Linked DNA regions of Homo sapiens: region 2 is linked to region 1. The links come from fine-mapping of genetic effects on gene expression. A gene starts in region 1. The other region holds a variant in brackets. All regions are shown on one strand. Distances are between the middles of the regions. Region 1 holds the start of HCN2 (hyperpolarization activated cyclic nucleotide gated potassium and sodium channel 2). Region 2 overlaps HCN2 (hyperpolarization activated cyclic nucleotide gated potassium and sodium channel 2).

Evidence for each region.
Region 2: its variant is fine-mapped to the expression of HCN2 in whole blood (TOPMed, PIP above 0.99). The same link has a PIP of 0.9 or more in blood mononuclear cells.

What each region holds. Positions count from the first base shown.
Region 1 is chr19:588,851-591,598 of GRCh38, forward strand. It overlaps HCN2 (hyperpolarization activated cyclic nucleotide gated potassium and sodium channel 2), which reads left to right and starts at 1,031. Exons shown (of 8, transcript NM_001194.4): 1 at 1,031-1,727. The coding sequence starts at 1,096. It also overlaps the pseudogene LOC100420586.
Region 2 is chr19:609,189-612,184 of GRCh38, forward strand. HCN2 (hyperpolarization activated cyclic nucleotide gated potassium and sodium channel 2) reads left to right here. Exons shown (of 8, transcript NM_001194.4): 5 at 1,071-1,217. LOC107987266 (a long non-coding RNA gene) reads right to left here. Exons shown (of 2, transcript XR_001753828.2): 2 at 752-1,966. Among named protein-coding and RNA genes, the nearest start is that of HCN2, 21 kb to the left of the region's middle. RefSeq lists an enhancer at 1,722-2,031. The variant T/C (reference allele first, on the strand shown) is at 1,792.

The DNA.
Region 1 (2,748 bases):
TTCTTCGAGTGTGACTGTCTGTCTCCTCTCTCTCACTTGCCAGCTTCCTCACCTGCCCCCTCCCGGCTGTCTGGTGGGCTGGGTGGCTAGGGACAGAGGCCTCATGTCACCTGGCACCAAGCAGCACCCACGCCCAGCCGGCTTCGGCCCAGAAGCAGAGCCTTGGGAAGCACCTGTCTCAGAGCTGGGGACTGGAGGCACTGGGGGCACAGCTGCACCCGGAGTCCGAGGGGTCGGGGAAAGGAGGCAACCCCGGGGCAGGGGGCTCTGGTACCCGTGCGAAGGCGCTAGTGGGCTTTGGGTCTCCCTGTGACCCCAATCTAAAGCCCACCAGACCTAGAGGAGACCCCCGCCGCACGGCTCCCCAGGGCACTGTTTGAGGGGTGGGTGGGAACCCCACACCCTCGGGTGGCTTTTCCAGTTTTCCTTGTCTGGCTGGGCTTGGCCTCAGTTTCCTCAAATGCAGACCAGGGAGAGGAGTGCCTGAGTCTCCCAGAACGGCGCCCAAGCCGGCCTGCCCCTCCCCACGCACTCAAGGGTCTCTGTCCAGGGCCCACAGGCGACCCAGCAAGGGCTCCTGTGACCTTTAGAAACACCCTTTCGTCGTGGAAGTCTTCAAACCTCACAGAAAGCAAGGAGGCGCTGGCCGTGGCGGCCTCTCCCGTCTCCCAGGCCCGCGTCCACCCTCCCCGCGCCGGTGCCCTCCGGACAGAGGTGGAAGCCGCGGCGCAGGAGAGGCGGCTCCGGCCGGGCAGCGGGGCCCGGTGACCTTGGGCGCGTCCTTACACGTCGCGGGCCTCAGTTTCCCCTCCTGGGGAGAGGCCCGCGCGGGGCTCCGAGGCCTCGGGCCGCGTGACCTTGGGGCGCCCCCGACCCCGCGGCCCGAGTTTCCCGGCGCCGAGCGGAGGCGGCGCGCGGGGAGGGGGCGCAGCCGAGGCGGGTCTCCCGCCCCCGCCCCTCCCCCGCCCCTCCCCCGCCGCGAGGCTCCGCCCCCCGCGGCTCCGCCCCGCCCCGCCCCCGCCTCCCCCCTCCCTCGGGCTCCGGCCGGCGGCGGCGGCGGCGGCTCCGCTCCGCACTGCCCGGCGCCGCCTCGCCATGGACGCGCGCGGGGGCGGCGGGCGGCCCGGGGAGAGCCCGGGCGCGACCCCCGCGCCGGGGCCGCCGCCGCCGCCGCCGCCCGCGCCCCCCCAACAGCAGCCGCCGCCGCCGCCGCCGCCCGCGCCCCCCCCGGGCCCCGGGCCCGCGCCCCCCCAGCACCCGCCCCGGGCCGAGGCGTTGCCCCCGGAGGCGGCGGATGAGGGCGGCCCGCGGGGCCGGCTCCGCAGCCGCGACAGCTCGTGCGGCCGCCCCGGCACCCCGGGCGCGGCGAGCACGGCCAAGGGCAGCCCGAACGGCGAGTGCGGGCGCGGCGAGCCGCAGTGCAGCCCCGCGGGGCCCGAGGGCCCGGCGCGGGGGCCCAAGGTGTCGTTCTCGTGCCGCGGGGCGGCCTCGGGGCCCGCGCCGGGGCCGGGGCCGGCGGAGGAGGCGGGCAGCGAGGAGGCGGGCCCGGCGGGGGAGCCGCGCGGCAGCCAGGCCAGCTTCATGCAGCGCCAGTTCGGCGCGCTCCTGCAGCCGGGCGTCAACAAGTTCTCGCTGCGGATGTTCGGCAGCCAGAAGGCCGTGGAGCGCGAGCAGGAGCGCGTCAAGTCGGCGGGGGCCTGGATCATCCACCCGTACAGCGACTTCAGGTACCGCCTCCGGGAGGGCCGGTCGGCGCGAGGGGGCCCGGGGAGCCGGGCGCGCGGGGAGCCGTCCTTGGAGCGCCTGGGGAGGGCGGGGCGGCGCGCCGGGCCGGTGACCTCGGGGCTCCTCGGTGACCTCGGGCGTGTCCGGGACCCGCCCCGGAGTGACCCCGGCGCGCGAGGCTCCGCCTCTGGGGGGGCTCCCCGGGTGACCGCGGAGCGCCCCCCTCCCACGCACCCCGACATCCTCCGCCCTGCGGCGCGGCGGGTGGGGTGGGCCGCAGGGCCAGGGTCTGAGCGCAGAGGGGCAGAGAGGACGAATAGAGGGGAACGTGGGCCCCAGAGAGGCGGCGGAGCGGGAGGGAGGAGGAACGAAGGGCGCCCGGGAAGGACGCGCCCCAGGGAGGCCGGGGGAGAGGGGGTTAAGCGGCTCCCACGGCGTCCACCCGCGCCCCGCCTGCGAGGAGGCGCGCCCGGGGCCGCGGGCCTGGAAAGCGTGCGGGTCCCCAGGCTGTGTCCCCGGGAGCCGCTCCACCCGAGCCGCGGGCGGTGCGCGCATGCGGCGGTGGGTGTGTAGACGCCGCTGTGGATCCAGCCGGCTAATGCGTGGAAGGCTCGGAGCAGGGCCGGCGCGGGGCCACCGCCACTGATGTTTGCGGTCGTGGTTCCTGGGCTGTGCGTGCTGTGGCCGGAGAGCGAGACCGGCGCGTGTCCCCGTGGGCTGTGTGTGAACAGGGGCCCGTGACCGCGGCGGGGTTCCCGGGGCGCGAGCCTGTGGCCGGAGAGGTGTGTCTCCAGGAGTGTGTTTGCGTGGTGGTCGCGGGCGTGTGCGCCTCCGGTGGGTTTATTTTGGTGGGACGTGTGGTTTGTGTGTGTTGGGACCAGGTGGCGGGCGTGCGCGTGTACGCCCGGGGCCGGTGTGCACCGGTGGGCAGTAGTGTGAGCCGCAGGCAGGTCTCACACACGCGACCATGGAGGGATGCGTGTGTGTTTGTGTATCCACGAGTGGGGTGTGAGGTGGGGTGTG
Region 2 (2,996 bases), 20 kb after region 1:
TTCCGCTGAGCTCAGGGCAGCTGCGGCCGGGCGGGGCTGGGGCGGAAGTGAGGCTGGAGCTGCCGGGGGGCACCGTCCTGGGGACAGCAGGGCCTGGCACCCCCGCCCAGCACCCACGCTCCCTTCCCTGCTCAGGAGGGGCTGACCCGATGGTTTCTGGAAAGATCATCAGGGAAGGGCCAGAGCCCCCGGGAAGGGGGTCCTGTGTGTCAGGGTACCTGGGGCCTCTCCTCGTAGAGTCAGGTGCCCACCCATTCCTCAGGGATAGGGTTGCTAGATAAAGTTCAGGGCACCCGGCCTGGTGCAGTGGCTCCTGCCTGTAATCCCGGCACTCTGGGAGGCCGAGACAGGCCGATCGCCTGAGGTCAGGAGTTTAAGACCAGCCTGAGCAACACGGCGAGACCTCATCGCTACAAAAAATTAAAAAATTAGCAGGGCAGGGTGGTGCACACCTGTAATCCCCACTACTCAGGAGGCCGAGGTGGGAGGATCCCTTGAGCCCAGGAGTTCAAGACCAGCCTGTGCAATATGGCGAGACCTCATCTCCACAAAAAATAAAAGAATCAGCCAGGCGTGGTGGCGCACACCTGCAGTCCCTGCTACTCAGGAGGCTGAGGTGGGAGGATTGCTTGAGCCCATAGGCGGAGGCTGCAGTGAGCTGTGATTGCACCACTGCACTCCAGCGTGGGCCACAGAGCGAGACAGTGTCTCAGAAAAAAAAAATGGAATTTATCATTGAAACGAATTCAACTTTGATTTAAATAGAAGCATGTTTATTTGCTCTTGTTGAATCTGGCCGCCCCTGTGTGTGGCGGAGGCCTGTCTCCCCGCTGTGGGCGGGGGCTTTGTCTGACCCAGCCCTGACCCCCCACAGTACAAGCAGGTGTGAAGGCCTATCTCCCCGCCACAGGCCGGGGGGCTGTCTGACCCACAAGCAGGTGCCCGTGTGCCCGCTGCAGGCTGGGGGCGGTGTCTGACCCAGCCTCGCCTCCCCACAGTACAAGCAGGTGCCCCTGTGCCCGCTGCAGGCCGGGGGCGGTGTCTGACCCAGCCTCGCCTCCTCCCCACAGTACAAGCAGGTGGAGCAGTACATGTCCTTCCACAAGCTGCCAGCTGACTTCCGCCAGAAGATCCACGACTACTATGAGCACCGTTACCAGGGCAAGATGTTTGACGAGGACAGCATCCTGGGCGAGCTCAACGGGCCCCTGCGGGAGGTGAGGCGGGCGCCGGGCGGGCGGGAGGCAGCCTCCGGTACAGGGCCGGCCTCCCTCTCCTGGAGCCCAGGAGCCGGTCCCTGAGGGAGGCGAGGTGCCTAGGCTGCAGCAGGAGGGACTCGAGCTAGACCTGCGTACACACCCTCCCCTCCCCGCCCCGTGAGCCTCTGCACCCCCAGGACCCCCGCCACCCCCGCCTTGCTTCCCGCTGCCCCCTTAGCAGAACTGCCTGGGTCTGTGCCTGACAGGGCGGGGCAGAAGCAGGGCAGGGGGTGGGGAGGGAGGAGCCGCAGAGGCCCCGCTGAGCACCAGGTCCTGGGGGCACTGAGGCTGATTGGAGCGGGTTTAACTCCCAGCTCTGTTCCGGTAGCCTGAGTGACCCTGGGCAAGTTTCCCAGGGTTGCGGGAACAAATACCCACAGGCTGAGTGGCTTGAACAGCGGAGATTCGGCCTCCCACCGTCCTGGAGGCCGGAAGCCCAACATCAAGGCGTGGGCCGGGCCGTGCTACCCCCCCGGAGCCCCTGGGGAGGATCCTTCCTGCCTCTTCCGGCGTCTGGGGCTCCAGGCGCCCT[T/C]GGCTTGCAGATTGATCTCCCTGATCTCTGCCTCCATCTGCTCACAGCCTTCTCCCCTGTGTGTCTCTGTCTCTTCTTGTAAATTCATCCGTCGTTGGATCAGGGCCCACCCGGTTCCTCGTGGCCTCGCCTTAACTGGGCCATGTCTGCAGAGACCCTATTTCCACATAAGGTCCTATTCACAGGAACCGGGGGTCAGGATGTCAGCCTGTCTTTCTGGGAGATGTAGTTCAACCCACAACACACATCAAACAGTTATTGAGCGCCGACTGCGTGCCCTGCCGTGTGCTTGAAGGTCCCACCCTCAGGAAGCGGGGCCTAGGGATGGCGGCCGTGATCACGCAGGCAGCAGAGAGCAGCTCTGGGAAGCGGGGAGGGACGAGGACGGGGAGGCGACATCAGCAAGGCCGTGTGTGAGCCAGGCAGGGTGTCCCCGGTGTAGCACCTGGCTCGGGCAGAGGCCCCGAGGAGGGGCTGGAGGAGCTGGGCGAGGAGGCGGGCAGGACGGGCCTGACACTAGGGACCTCGGGCCCCGGGAATGCCTCTGGGGGGGCGTGTACACCCGTTGCTCCCAGGAGGCACACACTGCGGTTCGCTTCGCCAAGAATGTTTAATTGCATTTGATGACTACGGTTTCCATTCATTCATTTGTAGAGATATAACACTCAGACCACAAAATGCATAAAATGCGGTGGCTTTTAGTATTAACAGAGTGCTGCACCCGATACCACAGCCTCACTCCAGAACATTCTCATGGGCCCAAAAGGAGACCTGGGGTGTTAGTCACCAGCTCACTCCCCGTCCCCAGCCCCTGGCAACCCACGCTACTTAGTCATTATTTAGGTGTTTAGGAGTTGCAAAGTCAAATCTTTAAACCCACATATGGCCAGGCGTGGTGGCTCACGCCTGTAATCCCAGCACTTTCAGAGGCCGAGACGGGCAGATCACCTGAGGTCAGGAGTTCGAGACCAGCCTGGCCAACATGGTGAAGCCCCGTCTCCACTAAAAATACAAAATTAGCCGGGCGTGGTGGTGGGCGCCTGTAATCCCAGCTACTCTGGAGGCTGAGACAGGAGAATCGCTTGAACCCAGGAGGCGGCGGTTGCAGTGAGCCGAGATTGTGCCACTGCACTCCAGCCTGGACAACAGAGCGAGACTCCGTCTCAAAAAAAAAAAAAGTACCAAAAAGTGCCCCAGGTCATAAG